3 separate regions of the Homo sapiens genome follow, and all the other regions are linked to region 1. The links come from fine-mapping of genetic effects on gene expression. A gene starts in region 1. Each other region holds a variant in brackets. All regions are shown on one strand. Distances are from middle to middle.

What was found. PIP is the estimated chance that this variant, and not a neighbour inherited with it, causes the effect.
Region 2: its variant is the best candidate, but not a certain one, in a credible set for the expression of GSDMD in memory regulatory T cells (Schmiedel 2018, PIP 0.90).
Region 3: its variant is the best candidate, but not a certain one, in a credible set for the expression of GSDMD in whole blood (TOPMed, PIP 0.56).

What each region holds. Positions count from the first base shown.
Region 1 is chr8:143,555,542-143,560,755 of GRCh38, forward strand. GSDMD (gasdermin D) reads left to right here and starts at 2,805. Exons shown (of 11, transcript NM_024736.7): 1 at 2,805-2,910; 2 at 3,791-4,011; 3 at 4,236-4,428; 4 at 5,062-5,214. The coding sequence starts at 3,795. It overlaps LOC100310756 (a long non-coding RNA gene), which reads right to left and starts at 2,730. Exons shown (of 1, transcript NR_147504.1): 1 at 1,278-2,730. RefSeq lists an enhancer at 2,620-3,261.
Region 2 is chr8:144,310,582-144,315,795 of GRCh38, forward strand. HSF1 (heat shock transcription factor 1) reads left to right here. Exons shown (of 13, transcript NM_005526.4): 5 at 593-668; 6 at 740-801; 7 at 924-1,020; 8 at 1,119-1,255; 9 at 1,382-1,663; 10 at 2,930-3,035; 11 at 3,265-3,330; 12 at 3,404-3,473; 13 at 3,544-4,139. The coding sequence ends at 3,749. DGAT1 (diacylglycerol O-acyltransferase 1) reads right to left here. Exons shown (of 17, transcript NM_012079.6): 17 at 4,003-5,214. LOC124902050 reads right to left here and starts at 4,989. Exons shown (of 2, transcript XM_047422537.1): 1 at 4,345-4,989; 2 at 4,003-4,239. The coding sequence starts at 4,989. The coding sequence ends at 4,369. RefSeq lists an enhancer at 2,204-2,735. The variant C/T (reference allele first, on the strand shown) is at 2,230.
Region 3 is chr8:143,502,836-143,508,049 of GRCh38, forward strand. It overlaps ZC3H3 (zinc finger CCCH-type containing 3), which reads right to left. Exons shown (of 12, transcript NM_015117.3): 4 at 4,911-5,064. SNORD149 (small nucleolar RNA, C/D box 149) reads right to left here and starts at 3,413; the gene lies at 3,350-3,413. The variant C/T (reference allele first, on the strand shown) is at 2,785.

The sequences.
Region 1 (5,214 bases):
GCCTTGCAGGGATGCTGTGTGCCCGGCTCCTTCCATCTTCACCATGGAGGCTGCAGCACAACAGCTCAGCACGTGCTGGCCCTGTTACCCAGCAGGGACGGGCTGCCACACCCCAGGGCGCTGGCTTCCAGGGGCAGCAGTGTGTGGGCTCCTTGCCTGCCGGGGTCACGGAGGAAGGTCAGCTCTGCCCAGCAGTGTGTCCTGAGATGAAACCTTAGACCCACCTGGTCTGCAAAACAGTACCCAAGCCCAGTGTAGTGGCTCAGCCCTGGAATCCCAGCACTTTGGGAGGCTGAGGCGGGAGGATCACTTGAGCTCAGAAGTTCAAGACCAGCCTGGGCAACATAGTGAGACCTTTCTACTGAAAATTAAATAATTTTAAAAACTTACAGCCAGGTGCGGTGACTCACGCCTGTAATCCCAGCACTTTGGAAGGCCAAGGCGGGTGGATAGCAAGGTCAAGAGATCGAGACCAGCCTGGCCAACATGGTAAAACCCTGTCTCTACTAAAAATACAAAATTAGCTGGGCGTGGTGGCGGGCACCTGTAATCCAAGATACTCGGGAGGGTGAGACAGGAGAATTGCTTGAGCCCGGGAGGCAGAGATTGCAATGAGCTGAGGTTGTGCCATTGCACTCCAGTCTGGGCAAAAAAGAGCAACACTCCGTCTCTCACACACAGACACAAAATTAGCCGGGTGTGGTGGTACATGCCTGTAGTCCCAACTACTCGGGAGGCTGAGGCAGGAGAATCGCTTGAACCTGGGAGGCAGAGGTTGCAATGAGCTGAGATCACGCCACTGCACTCCATCCTGGTGACAGAGCAAGACTCAGTCTCAAAACAAAAACGAAAACTTTGCCAGGTGTGGTGCTGAGCACCTGTAGTCCCAGCTACTCAGGAGACTGACAGGAGGGGATCACTTGAGCCCAGGAGGTCGAGGCTGCAGTGAGTGGTGATTGTGCCACTGCACTCCAGCCTGGGCGACAGAGAGATCTTGCCTCACACAAAACAAAACAAACAACAAAAAATACACAAAACAGCCAGGAGACAGCACCAGCAGGGACCCGCAGGGCACCACTGTGTCCCCACTGTGGTCAGGCCTAGGAGTGGGGCCGAAGCCCAAGTAGCCCCATCCACAACCGCGGAGCGGCTGGGAGGGCCGGGTGGGAGGACTACCGTGTGCAGGGGTGGGCCCATGGCCCTGGGCCCACCATGACTTAGGTCAGTAGGGCACTGAGGGAGCCTGTGCCGAGACTAGGTGTTGCTACTGGGCACTAGATTTTTAAAATAACTGCTTTAATGAGACATAATTGTGTAATTCCCATACCATACAATTCATCCATTTAAAGTGTGCAATTCTGTGGGTCTTAGCATATTCAGAGGTATGCAAACATCACCAACGGCCAATATCAAAACACTTCCTCACCCCAGAAAGAAACCCCAAACCAGCAACCGTCGCTCCCAACCCCCGTCCCGGGCACCGGCAGCGCCATCTCCCTTCTTCCCTCTGGACGTGCCCATTCGGGACACATCACGTGAGCAGGATCACGCCGTCCGCTCCGTGTGCCTGGCTTTTCACTTAGCATGATGTCTCCAAGTCTGTGTCGCCCGTCTGTGTCGCCCAGTGCATCAGGGTCTCATTCCTTTTGACCGTGGGCGCCGTTCTACGGCCTGGATTCCAGTGCCTGGACTGGCCATGTTTAGTCTATGCACGCCTCAGTGGATGGACAGGGTTTCCACCTTGCCGCTATGGCGAAGGATGCTGCCGCTATGGCGAAGGATGCTGCCGCTATGGTGAAGGATGCTGCCGCTTTGGCGAAGGATGCTGCCGCTATGGCGAAGGATGATGCCGCTGTGACGACAGCTGCTGCCGCTGTGGCGAAGGATGCTGCCGCTGTGACGACGGATGCTGCCGCTATGATGAAGGATGATGCCGCTGTGACGACGGATGCTGCCACTATGGCGAAGGATGCTGCCGTGAACTTTGGTGCACAGGCATCTGTTTGCGTCTTTGCTTTCAATTCCTGTGGGTGGAGCTAGGAGTGGAATTGCTGGGTCACACGGTAACTCTTGGAGGAGCTGCCAGGCTTATTCCAGAGGGCCGCACGGGTTGACATTCCCACCAGCATTGCACAAATGTTCCAGTGACTCCACGTGCCCCCCGCGCTGGTTATTCACCTTTAGTAATACGACCATCTTTGTCAGTGTGCAGTATCTCTCTGTGGATTCCATTTGCATTTCCTTGATGACTAAGGGTGTTGAGCATCTTTGCATTTGCTTGAGGGCAATTTCTACATTTTGTACATCTTTGGAAGATCTGCCCAGACCCTTCGGCACAGGCCCAAAGTTGTTTGTTTGCTTGTTTGTTTTTGAGACGGAGTCTCACTCTGTCGCCCAGGCTGGAGTACAATGGCATGATCTCGGCTCACTGCAACCTACACCTCCCAGGTTCAAGCGATTCTCTTGCCTCAGCCTCCCAGGTAGCTGGGATCACAGGCATGCGCCACCACGCCGGGCTAATTTTGTATTTTTAGTAGAGACGGGGTTTCACCATGTTGGTCAGTCTGGTCTTGAACTCCCGACCTCAGGTGATCCGCCCGGGCACAGGCTCAGAGTTTTAAGAAAAACCACAAAGTGCTATGAAGTTTGAGGCTACCAGGATGGGGCGCCAAGCCAAGGTTCCTCCGGACGCGCGAGGCTGGTGCTCCAGGCGGGCTGGCGGGAAGAGGGGGCAGGAAGGGGGCCGGGGCGGGCTCTCCGGGACGGTTCCGGGAGGGCGTCCTGGGCGGGCCCTGCGTCAGGTTGCAGTTTCACTTTTAGCTCTGGGCACCTCCAGCTCCTGCTCGCCGGACGGCTCCCAGGGAGAGCAGACGCGCCAGACGCGCCACCCTCGGGGCGCCGACGGTCACGGTGAGCTGCGCCCCGCCCCCTCCCCCGGCCTGGCTGGAGCTCCCGAGTGGGGCCGGCCGCTGGCTCCCGGGTGGGGGATGCTGGCCCTGCTGCCCCAGCGTTCGCCCAGAAGGCCCCGCGCCGCACACGGGGGCGGAAGCTCCAGGCTTCGGGAAAGGCTGCCCCTGGCCAGCCCAGGGGCCCGGCCTTTGGACCTGGGCTTGGGCTTGACTCCCAGGTCCGCCATCCAGGTTCCCGGGCCGGTGCTGTTCCCGCCCCCAGCTGCCTTCTGGGCCCAGCCTCCACTTTCAGCAGACCCAGCACTCAGAGGCTTCCTGGGGCAGCTGCAGCCCCTCCACAGTGGCCCAGGTGCCCCCTATCCCAGCGGAGGCCCGCTATGGCCTCTGACCCCCAAAGCCTCAGCCTTGGACAGGTGGCTCATGGAGCTCCAGGCACAGAGAAGGCCCTGGAGGACGCAGCTGGGGTGGGGCGACACTCTGGCTGGGTTTTGCAGTGGGTCCCTGGTGACACTCTGGCTGGGTTTTGCAGTGGGTCCCTGCACCACGCTCAGGAGGTGACAGCTTGTTTCCTCCCAGCCAGAGGCAGCCATTCTAGTGGACAGAGCCCTCTGTGTTAGAGCAGGTCTGGGCGTCAGGCCTCACTGTCCCTGGCTGGAGGTGCTCATGGTACCGTAGACAACAGGGAGAACACTGTAATTCTGTGTTGGGGAGGGCCGGGGACAGAAGCTTTCTGCTAGTGGGAGCATCCCAGGATGAGCTGGGCAGGGCTGTTCTGGAGGGAAGGAGTCCCCCATCATGGGAGACATCCAAGTACTGACCCTTCTCCCACTCCCTCCCGCCCGCCCCGAGAGCACAATGCCTGACCCATTTCCCCTCCTCAGGAGCATGGGGTCGGCCTTTGAGCGGGTAGTCCGGAGAGTGGTCCAGGAGCTGGACCATGGTGGGGAGTTCATCCCTGTGACCAGCCTGCAGAGCTCCACTGGCTTCCAGCCCTACTGCCTGGTGGTTAGGAAGCCCTCAAGCTCATGGTTCTGGAAACCCCGTTATAAGTGTGTCAACCTGTCTATCAAGGACATCCTGGAGCCGGATGCCGCGGAACCAGGTGCCTGATGTGGTGCTGAGGCAGAGCCCCAGGGAGGCTGGATGGGAGAGGGGAGCGGGCTGGGGCCAACCATCCACTGGGCTCTGCAGCCTCTAGCTCTGGGCCTCTCTTCCAGAGGCCGGGGCCTTTCCAAAGGTCCCTCTGCCCTGGGGCTGGGACAGGGCTGGTGGGGGCGGGGGAGAGGCGGGGCGCTGGGCACAGCCTCAGGTCTGGCCTTGCTTTAGACGTGCAGCGTGGCAGGAGCTTCCACTTCTACGATGCCATGGATGGGCAGATACAGGGCAGCGTGGAGCTGGCAGCCCCAGGACAGGCAAAGATCGCAGGCGGGGCCGCGGTGTCTGACAGCTCCAGCACCTCAATGAATGTGTACTCGCTGAGTGTGGACCCTAACACCTGGCAGACTCTGCTCCATGAGAGGTGGGCCCGAAGAGGGCAGGGCAGGGCAGGGCCCCACCTACCCCAAGCAACCCTGCTTTTATTTATTTATTTATTTAAATTATTTTTTGAGGTGAGGTTTTGCTATCTCGGCCAGGGTGGTCTTGAACTCCTGGCCTCAAGCAGTCCTCCTGCCTCGGCCTCCCAAAGTGCTGGGATTACAGGGGTGAGCCACTGTGCCAGGTCCCAGCCTTGCTCTTGGGAAGGTCACAACCTTGGGGCATCAGGAAAGTCCCAGAGGCAAAAGAGCGCTGTGGCCGGAACCAGCTTGCAGGAAGGAAGCTGCAGGGGTCATCTGGGGCCTCCGCTGCCAGGACTGGATCCTAAGGACCGGACTGAGCCCCAGGCTGCTGTGAGGACAAGGGGTGGTGTGAACACGGGGGCCCAGGTGAGGGGGCCGCACCTCGAGTCTGGACTTGGAGTCCCCGAGTCCACCTTTCCTCATGGGGTCCCGTCCCCGTGGGGAGCACACGGAGAGGCTGCCGGTGCCCCGGCACCCACAGACCTCTGGAGGGCCCCTCTGCACCACCTCCCCCGGTGGCGTGGGGCTGTCAGGGGAGGGAAGACGCCTTCAGGGGCTGCGGCCCAGCGAGCTTTGCTGCTCCTCGGACACAGGCACCTGCGGCAGCCAGAACACAAAGTCCTGCAGCAGCTGCGCAGCCGCGGGGACAACGTGTACGTGGTGACTGAGGTGCTGCAGACACAGAAGGAGGTGGAAGTCACGCGCACCCACAAGCGGGAGGGCTCGGGCCGGTTTTCCCTGCCCGG
Region 2 (5,214 bases), 760 kb after region 1:
GCTTTGTGATTCCTGGAGTCCGGCCACGTGGACCTGGCCTACCAAGAAGACTCACAGGCTTGACAGGGCCCAGCCTCCCAGAGCAGCAGGAGCGCGGTCATGGCCCTGCTCACCTGGCTGGGGACAGCTCTTCCCCACCCCTGAGCCACCTCCAGGCCTGGCGAGGGCCCTGAGCACCTACAGGACATGGGACAGCCAGTGTCGCAGCCTGAAGAACCGTCCTCCCTTAACCTGGCTGCTCAGGCCTTGGAAGGGCGGCCCAAGGGTCTGCTCCTGGCCTGTGTCCAAGGCAGCCCTCCAGGTGTTTGCCAGGATGGATGCCAGGATCCGGGTGCACCTGGCTCGCATGGATCCATCCCCAACACCCTACGTGACACCAGGTGTCCCCGGCAGGGAGGGGCAGTGGGACCAGCAAGCCCTGGCCCTGGCCCCCAGTCCCTCCACACACAAGTTCTCATCCTGGGGTGGGCCAGGCCAGACATGGTCACACTTACCCCTGCTCCTGCATGGGGGACAGGGAGGGTCTGTGGGGCTCCCTCAGCCCTGGGGCTCATGGGATTGGGCCCCACTGACCCAGCCTGGTCTGTTGCAGTGAGAATGAGGCTCTGTGGCGGGAGGTGGCCAGCCTTCGGCAGAAGCATGCCCAGCAACAGAAAGTCGTCAACAAGGTGGGGGCAGGGCCAGAGGGCCGGCGGGGGCCCCACAAGGGCCGGGGTAACTGTGTCCTCTCTCTCCACAGCTCATTCAGTTCCTGATCTCACTGGTGCAGTCAAACCGGATCCTGGGGGTGAAGAGAAAGATGTGAGGTTTTGGGGATGCCTGCATCCACCACCCGGGGCCCAGGGCTGTCCCCCTTCTCTGTCAGCTGTGCCCCGGGTACCCCGAGGTGGGGGGTGGTGGCTGACCTGCACCCTTCCCCACAGCCCCCTGATGCTGAACGACAGTGGCTCAGCACATTCCATGCCCAAGTATAGCCGGCAGTTCTCCCTGGAGCACGTCCACGGCTCGGGCCCCTACTCGGTGAGTGCCGGAGACAGGGCACCCGCCCAGGCATGCAGGCGGCAGTGGGGTGGGTTGCCCCTGCCGGCACTGCATGGACCTCCTGCCTTTGATTGCAGGCCCCCTCCCCAGCCTACAGCAGCTCCAGCCTCTACGCCCCTGATGCTGTGGCCAGCTCTGGACCCATCATCTCCGACATCACCGAGCTGGCTCCTGCCAGCCCCATGGCCTCCCCCGGCGGGAGCATAGACGAGAGGTGGGGGCCGCATCACCCCAGCCATCCTGTCCCCCAATGAGGCGAGCCCCTGTGGGCCCAGGGCAGAGTTGGGGATGAGGTGGGGCTGGCCGAGACGCCAGCTCACCTGGCCCCCCTCGTGTGCAGGCCCCTATCCAGCAGCCCCCTGGTGCGTGTCAAGGAGGAGCCCCCCAGCCCGCCTCAGAGCCCCCGGGTAGAGGAGGCGAGTCCCGGGCGCCCATCTTCCGTGGACACCCTCTTGTCCCCGACCGCCCTCATTGACTCCATCCTGCGGGAGAGTGAACCTGCCCCCGCCTCCGTCACAGCCCTCACGGACGCCAGGGGCCACACGGACACCGAGGGCCGGCCTCCCTCCCCCCCGCCCACCTCCACCCCTGAAAAGTGCCTCAGCGTAGCCTGCCTGGACAAGTGAGTGCCGCCCACCCCTGGCCCCACCCACAGCGCCTGGACGCACAGCCCTGGGCTTCAGCCCCGACTGTCCCAGTGGACTGAGCAGGGCAGCTGGCGAGGCAGGACCCTACCCCCAACCTCGGAGCTCGGGGCTGGGGAGGGAGACAGGTGCCAGCCAGATCACCCCACAGTCCCAAACGCCACAGAAGCCACGGGCATGTCCGGACAGGCTGCCGGGCCCTGCTCTCAGCCACCCGTCCTGCTGCCGCCACCCTCGCCACAGGCCACGGGCCCTGGCAGGTCGTGCTGCCCAGACACATGGCAGGAGATGGTGAGCAGGGCCGGCCTCCACACCCCCAGCCCCTGCCTGCAATGGGGGCTCTTGTTTTTGTATCTTGCAGTTTGGCTCGCACTCCACAGATGTCTAGGGTCGCCCGCCTCTTCCCCTGCCCCTCTTCCTCTCCGCATGGCCAAGTCCAGCCAGGGTTAGCGCTGACCCCACTGGGGAGGGAGGAGGGCTCTGCCAGCGCTCGGGCCCTCCCACACAGCCGTGGACCAGACCCAGCCTGGCCGGGCATGAGCGT[C/T]GGGCCTGGGCGGCAGCAGCCGAGACCCCTCTGTGGCGGGGGCTCAGTGTCGTCATGGCTCCCCTGGCCACGGGCCTGTGGTCATTGCCTGTGACAGGGATGACAGGGACAGGCCTCCCTGCTCTGGCACGGCCTCTGGTGTTGGCAGGATCCAGACTGCGGTGCTGACTGCACTTCCTGTCAGGCAGGGTCTCCAGGGCACCTCTGGGACCCAGCCTGGCTGTCCGTCCCATAGCCCAGGTGTGCCCTGTGGCCTAGGGCTTTCTTGGTCACAGCCACCAGACCGTGGGTCTCATCCCCACAGCAGCACCAGGGCAGGGACTGAGCCACCCACACACTGAGCAGAGCCCCACCTGTTTTCCCAGTGCAACGGGAAACCTCACCAACCCTGAACACTGAAATCCCTGATCCTTGTGCTGGAGCTGAATACGCCCCTTGTCTCCTGGGTCCACTGCCACCAAGGCCCCCAGGCCCTCATGGCAAAGGGATGCCCAGCATAGGCCCAGCCGCACCCCTGCAGGGCACAGAGCCTCCACTGCCTTCCAGGCCGTCCTCGAATGCGCTGCCCCCTCCAGCCTGTGCAGGCGTACACGGGGGTGCAGCCTGGGGGGTACAGTCAAGGGGAGCCCTTCTCCCACAGGAGGGCATTGGGGTGTGGGGCCTGGGGCACTGGTTCAGGTACCGCCTTATCCCGGGCCAGGAATGAGCTCAGTGACCACTTGGATGCTATGGACTCCAACCTGGATAACCTGCAGACCATGCTGAGCAGCCACGGCTTCAGCGTGGACACCAGTGCCCTGCTGGACGTGAGTGGAGCCCCGCCGCCCCGCCTCCCCGCCCCGCCTCCCCGCCGCGCCGCCCCGCCTCCCCGCCCCGCCTCCCCGCCTCCCCGCGCCGCCGCCCCGCCTCCCCGCCCCGCCTCCCCGCGCCTCCCCGCCTCCCCGCCCCGCCTCCCCGCCTCCCCGCCCCGCCTCCCCGCCCCGCCTCCCCGCCCCGCCCCCGGGTGCTGTTCTGACTTCCCTCCCTCCTCCGCAGCTGTTCAGCCCCTCGGTGACCGTGCCCGACATGAGCCTGCCTGACCTTGACAGCAGCCTGGCCAGTGTGCGTAGGCGGGCGGGGGGTGAGGGGGAACGAGACCAGCGGGAGTGCTCACAATACCGTCTCCACCCCACAGATCCAAGAGCTCCTGTCTCCCCAGGAGCCCCCCAGGCCTCCCGAGGCAGAGAACAGCAGCCCGGATTCAGGTGAGCCAAGTCCCACCGGCCCCACCTCTGCCCCCAACCCCCCACCGCCTTGACACCCCCACCCCCGCAGGGAAGCAGCTGGTGCACTACACAGCGCAGCCGCTGTTCCTGCTGGACCCCGGCTCCGTGGACACCGGGAGCAACGACCTGCCGGTGCTGTTTGAGCTGGGAGAGGGCTCCTACTTCTCCGAAGGGGACGGCTTCGCCGAGGACCCCACCATCTCCCTGCTGACAGGCTCGGAGCCTCCCAAAGCCAAGGACCCCACTGTCTCCTAGAGGCCCCGGAGGAGCTGGGCCAGCCGCCCACCCCCACCCCCAGTGCAGGGCTGGTCTTGGGGAGGCAGGGCAGCCTCGCGGTCTTGGGCACTGGTGGGTCGGCCGCCATAGCCCCAGTAGGACAAACGGGCTCGGGTCTGGGCAGCACCTCTGGTCAGGAGGGTCACCCTGGCCTGCCAGTCTGCCTTCCCCCAACCCCGTGTCCTGTGGTTTGGTTGGGGCTTCACAGCCACACCTGGACTGACCCTGCAGGTTGTTCATAGTCAGAATTGTATTTTGGATTTTTACACAACTGTCCCGTTCCCCGCTCCACAGAGATACACAGATATATACACACAGTGGATGGACGGACAAGACAGGCAGAGATCTATAAACAGACAGGCTCTATGCTATGGCCTCCATGTGTTTCCTCTGTCCCAGGGTGGTGCGGTGGGTGGTGCTGCAATGAGGAGGGGCCCAGGGCACAGAAGGGCCGGGCTGCAGTGGCCTCCTGGGGGAAGACGGATGCTTGCAGCTAGCTCCGTGCCTGCCCGACTCCCCAGGACCAGCATGTGCTTGCAGTTCTTTATTGAGGGACCAGGGGTGGGCGCCTCACCTTGGCCCTGGGGGTCTCTGGTTGTCACAGGACCACCAGGAACCCCCTTCCCAAGGTGTTCGCACTCGGACAGGTGATGCGGGGCGGGCACACTGTCTTTCTGCCAGAGCCAGCACCCTGTGTAGGCACGGGGAACGGGAGCCTGTCCCGTAGCTTTAGGGTTCTCCACTCAGCCTGGTGGAGGAAGGGAAGGGGGCCTGCGCTGGGCAGTGGAGCAGGCTTTGCTGCTTTATCTGGCAGCAACAGTTTGTTCTCGAGCTCCACTGGCCAACTGATAGGGAGAGGCACAGGAGCCCATGTGGGATGGAGGAGTCGGCCCCACACCCATCCCCCCACCAGGAGCTCACCCACTACTGCCATCCTCAGCAGGGCCCAAGGAGATGCCTCCATCTCAGGGCCCACCAGCCCCCACTGGGGTAGAGGGAGGATACCACCAAGGGAGCCCACCCTCCCCTCACACCACCAGTTCAGCAGGTTGCTGATGAGGCCCCTGGTGCAGTCCTGGGACCCTGTGCAGGGCCTCCTCAAACACCTGCCTTGTTGGGCCATAGCTGCAGGTCTGGGGACACCAGGGCCTGGTCCAGTCTTGGGGTCTTTAATCAAGCAGTCACCCCAGCAAGGTAAGGCAGCAGCAGGGCCCTGGGGTTACCCCTGACCTCCCGCTACCATCAAGGGGGGCCCCATCTATCCAGCTTGGTGGATTGCAGGGCCTGGGAACAAGGTGTCCTGAAGGCTGCAGGGCTGCGCTGTCTGCACTGCCCAGCCTGGTGCCAGAAGAGCAGAGGGCAAGGCAGGCCTGGGGATCAGGGGTGCCCCAACCTCGTGGAGGGCAGCTGAGAGCCACCAGCCCACCTGGCTGCCCAGGTTCCA
Region 3 (5,214 bases), 53 kb before region 1:
CTGACCTTCTGCCTCGCACCCCTGCATTCCAGGCCCTCTGGGACAGGCTTCACTTCAAGGCAGCAGTCCTGGGGCCCGGGGGAGGGCTGGCCAAGGCCGGCTCTCAGGGACCACTGTGGCATGGCCGAGGTATGCGTAAGGCAGCAGTACAGTAAGCTCCCAGGGTCCCCGAGCCAGAGCAACAGCCCCGTCCTGTGTATTTGGCAGATGCGACGGGCACCACGCTCAGCAGAACAACCCAGTCCCATGCCTCAGCTTCTGGGGAGAGGTGGCACATGGCCAGCACACCGCCAGCATGCCCCCGTCAGCTGTTGCCCCGCCCCAAGCAGCCACATGGCCGGGCATCTGCAGGCCAGGGCAACGCGGCCTCTGATGGGAGCACAGGTGGCACCGTGGATGCCACCCGTTGAGGCAGGAGTCCCGTTCTGCCCTTGGCATACAGGCACTGCTCCTTTTCTCCTCCCACCCTCTGCCCCACCCCAGTCTCCACACATGATGTCTGGCGTGTGCCTCAATGGTGTGCCCATCCTCAGAGACCCTGGCTGGCAGCACACAGAAGCCCCAGAAGCTACTGCCCAGCAGCCTCTGCCTTCCATCTGACAACGACGAGCACTGGCCGGCCACAAACCTGAGGCCACTGGTCAGCACCCAGCCATCTCCCGACCACCTCCCCCAGCACCCAGCCATCCCCCGACCACCTCCTCCAGCACCCAGCCATCTCCCCAACACCTCCCCCAGCACCCAGCCGGCTCCACCACCACCTCCCCCAGCACCCAGCCGGCTCCACCACCACCTCCTCCAGCACCCAACTGTCTCCACCACCACCTCCTCCAGCACCCAACTGTCTCCACCACCACCTCCCCCAGCACCCAGCCGGCTCCACCACCATCCCCTCCAGCACCCAGCCATCCCCCGACCACCTCCTCCAGCACCCAGCCATCTCCCGACCACCTACCTCCTCCAGCACCCAGCTGGCTCCCCACCGCCTCCTCCATGTTCAGGTCCAGAGAAAGCCGCTGACAGGGAGGAGAGGCCCCAGCCCCTATTACAAACCCAGCCATCAACGGGCCCTGACGCTGTCCTCCAGCCTTCCACATGGGCCCAACATGACCACCAGGCCGACAGTAAGTTTCTACTTAAATTAGGAGGGGGAGAGAGAGGGCGCGTGTGCCAAATCACCCCCTGGGACAGGGCAGAGGCCTAGACTCAGGCCGGGCACTCACTTGCCTACCCTCCTTCCCTCGGGCTGCAGGGAAGGGGAGTTTCTAGAGCTTCCCAGAGGAGGGAACAGGCCTAATCACCCTGAGCCCTCCCCAGTGCCCAGGGCAGAGCTAGGGCCAATAGCTCAGGGCCTGGGGCTCTCCAACCGAAAGCTGAGAGGAACTGCAGAGGGGTCCTGGGGGCTCATGGCCAGGAGAGGGGCCCCTTCTCGTGCCTCCTCAGGGCGGTGCAGTCCCCGCCATGAGCATCACAGCCAAGGGGAGGGGACGGGAAAAGAGGGCAGGGGAGGTCCCAGGGACAGGGTCAGAGAGAGGACAAGGTGAGGGCTGTTGTCAGCAGCAGAGCTGTGCAAGCTTCACTGCGGCAGCCTGTGTTACTGTTTCTTGTCCCCACCTTGGGCAGGGCCCAGTCCCATTCCTCTCAGGACGGGTGGTAGAGGTCCTGCCCCCTCCTCCGTCTTTGGGGTTCCAGCTCAGGCCCTGTCCTGAACACCCCACCACAATCAAGCCTAGAGACCCTACCCATTTCGCATGGTACAAGCAGGCAGGGACGGGCTGTCAGGTTCACGCTGCACTGCGCTGCCCCCAACTACACCCTACCCAAGATGCTCAGCCACTCCCAGCACCTGGGACCTTCATGTGCATCCTGGGGCAGGGTCAGCCTGGCCTTCACACACAGACCCCCAGGGCCTTCCCTCAACACTCAGAGCCCCCTGGGCCTCACTGTACTCCCCACTGCCGTCCCTTCGCAGAGCCTCTGCCAGCGGCTCCCTCTCCTCCCAGAGCAGTGCTGTTGGCCTCGTCCATCTCCCAGGAGCTGGCAGCTTCACAGAGAGCAGGCCCGGCTCCATGCTCGGAACTCGCGGGTTTGCTTCAGCAACAGAGCAAGATGCTAAGGCTCTGAGGGCAAGAGGCCTAGATGACTTCCTCTCAGGGTGACCAGATCTCCAATCACAGTGAGGGGTCGGCTGGGGCATCCCACACCGGCGCTGTCCCTCAGCCACTAGTCACCCTGCCTCCCTCCCCTCCCGCGTGTCCACCAGCCCCTGCCAACTCTGACCACCGTGGCTTCCAGGACTGCTGGGGCTTGCCCGCCAGCCCCTCCAGGGATGGGAGAGGGAGCTGGGGCCCAAGGAGAGCTCTGGTCTCAGGCTCCAGCCAGCCAACTGGCAGGACAGCCTGCCTTCTTCCTCTCCATGGCAGCCCTTAGTCCATGGTGGCCTGGGCCTGCCGAGGGAGGGCTGAGGGTCCAGCCACATGCAGGCAGCCCTGGCTCTGATGCAGCACCGGAGATGGCGCATGGGCCAGGCTAGACCAGCCGCTGGCCCAGACGCCCTTTCTGCCTAAACAACCCCGAGCCCAGGCACGCAAACAGGCAACAGCAGGCCAGGCAGCCATGCTGGGACGCAGGTGGCAGGTGACCCTGGGCGAGGCAGGCCCAGCCCACTGGTGGCCATTCTTCCCAGGACTTCCTAAGAGTCGTGCCCCTCAGCTCAGCACCCTCCCCACTCCACTCCCACACCCTATCCACAAGCCCAGGGTTCGTGTCCCGAAGGGTCCCAGA[C/T]GCCTGGCAAGGAGTGGAACAGGACTGGGGTGAGGCGGTCAGGAAAGCAAGGAGGGCCCCTCACACACCCCCTCAGCCACATGTGCATCCTGGGGCGGACTCAGCCTGGCCTTCACACACGGAGAAGACACTGAGGCCTGGAGCCCATGGCCACCAACCACAGCCAGGGCCTCCAGGGGTGGGCTGAATTCAGGCTTCTGGTGCTGGGGCCCTTGATCCATCAAAGGCGATGCCTGCTCCACCTCCTGCCCACCCATGCCTGTGGTGCAGCCCCTACACCAGGGCACTCAGAGAGTCACGGCCGCTCCCTGCAGGGCAGCTGGCCAGGCTTCACTTTGGAAGGACAGGGAACTTGGAGGGAGCCTATCAGCTGACCCGCTGCTCTCAGCCACATGGCGCCGACAGGAGGCCCTGGGCGCTGGGCCGGCTGCCACCTCCTCCTCCTCCCGGCCTCCTCAGCCCCAGGGCATGGGCACTTGTTTCTGTGCAACAACACCATCAGGGCCCTCCTGGGCAGGCCCAGCTACAGGAACCAGACCAGCCGGACCCAAACCAGACGCCTTCTTGGCCTTCAGAATCCAGAAGGAGAGGCCCTGCTGGGTCCGCCCTGAGGAAAATCATCACTTGGCCCCGAGCCGCACCCCTGGGAGAGGTGGACCCTCGACGTCGGGCTGACGACGACCACAGGACGGGAAGCAGGAGCGGAGAATCCATAAATCTGAACCTCATTCCCGATGATCCGGGGCTCTTATTAAGTAAATTAATTTAAGTTAATTTAGCTCGATCATGACTCCCGATCACAGTGATTTAGTGTGGGGGAAATTGCATTAGGAAAGGCCATGCTCACCAGATAGAAGAACGGAAGAAAATTAGATCCACTTAGCAATGTGAATTAATATGGAAATAGCAGGTGTAAATTTAACCTTATCGAGAGAATAAAAATTATCTTCATAAATTTGCAGAAATAGCCCCCGAGATGCTTATAAATCTATTTAAAACAAAAATATTACAAAAAGTGCAGTAAAATTAATTTAAAATATACTCCAGCTATTGCCTCCAGAAAACTCAGCAGCAGGGCCAAGCTGAGTGTGGCCTGGTGATACGGGAGGCAGCAGGACACCACCTGGTGGGCTCGCCAGCTGGCTGACCTGCCACGAGGCTCCAGAGCTGGGTAGGGCTGTCCATACTGGTGGGTGGATCCCCTGGGGTTAGCCTCAGGCCTGGAAACCTCTGGCTAGCAGCAGGGAACCACCAGGCAGCTACGGTCCGGTGGGTGGCCGTGCCCTGGGCCGTGGCTGCTCGCCCTGAGGCCCTGCCCACCATCTCTGGCCCACGCCACTCCCCCAGGAGCAGATTCCCGCGGGGAGGGTCAGAAGACAGAGGGAGGGGTCTGCCACTGCCTGCTTCCCATCTGCCTGCCAGAGCTATTACCCTCTCCCAACCTGGAGATGGGGCACCACCACCACAGCAAAGGAAGGGGCCAACCTCCTAGAGCCAGGCCTCCTGAGGCCCAGAGGCTGAGCAACCTTGACTGAGCAGGTGGCAAAGCCTCCCGGGATAGCGGCCCCAGGAGGGCAAAAGCTGTTCCCTGCCGACAGAGCCGCCCTCCCAGCCTGCATCGAGGTCAGAGTGCGAGTGGGGGCCAGAACACGGACAGGCAGCCAGCAGCAGGGCAAGGAGTAGCTCACATCACCGCCTTGACAATCATACATTGACAGCTTCCAGACAGACCACTGAAGGCCCAGCCTCTCCCACCAGAAGCTTCTCCCCGAGAGATGCTCAGACAGCACATGGCGTGGGCCCTGACCGTCTGGGCAGCAGAAGCTTTCATGGCACAGAGCCCTCACCAGCTAATAGGCTTGCTGAGAACAGCAGAGCATGTGTGTGCATGTGTGTCCGTCCGTCTTCACGTGTATGTGGTAAACACAAGCTGGCCTCCTATTTGGTGCAGAAATTGCTAAAGACACAGAAAAATCAGGCTGGTCCCCAGCCAACGAGCCCAACACCAAGCAGTTCTGGGATGTGCTCAGCTCCCCCTGGCCCTTGGATTCTACCCTGCAGCCCTCAGGGCAGGGCCAGACAGCCCAGTTCCCAGGCCTGCAGGAGCCTGCAGGAAGCCTTCCTACCTGGATAGTGAGAGCCGCCGGGCCCGCCAGGAGGGCAGAGACAGGGGGAAGGGCGGGGCGCTGAGAGGCGAGGCCGGCGTCTTCTTGACAATGCGGTAGCGGGTCTTGATCACCTTGCTGGTGGGTGCAGTCCGCACGGCATGCAGGCTGGACGCTGTAGAGAAAACCCAGGGCACAGACATGGGTCAGGGAAGGCCGGCAAGGGTAGGGTCAGAGAGGCCACCCACAGTGCCAGCTCTGCCCACCGCCTCCGCCGGAGCTTGAAGACCCTCCATCGCCCCGTGGATAAAACCCTCAACCCATG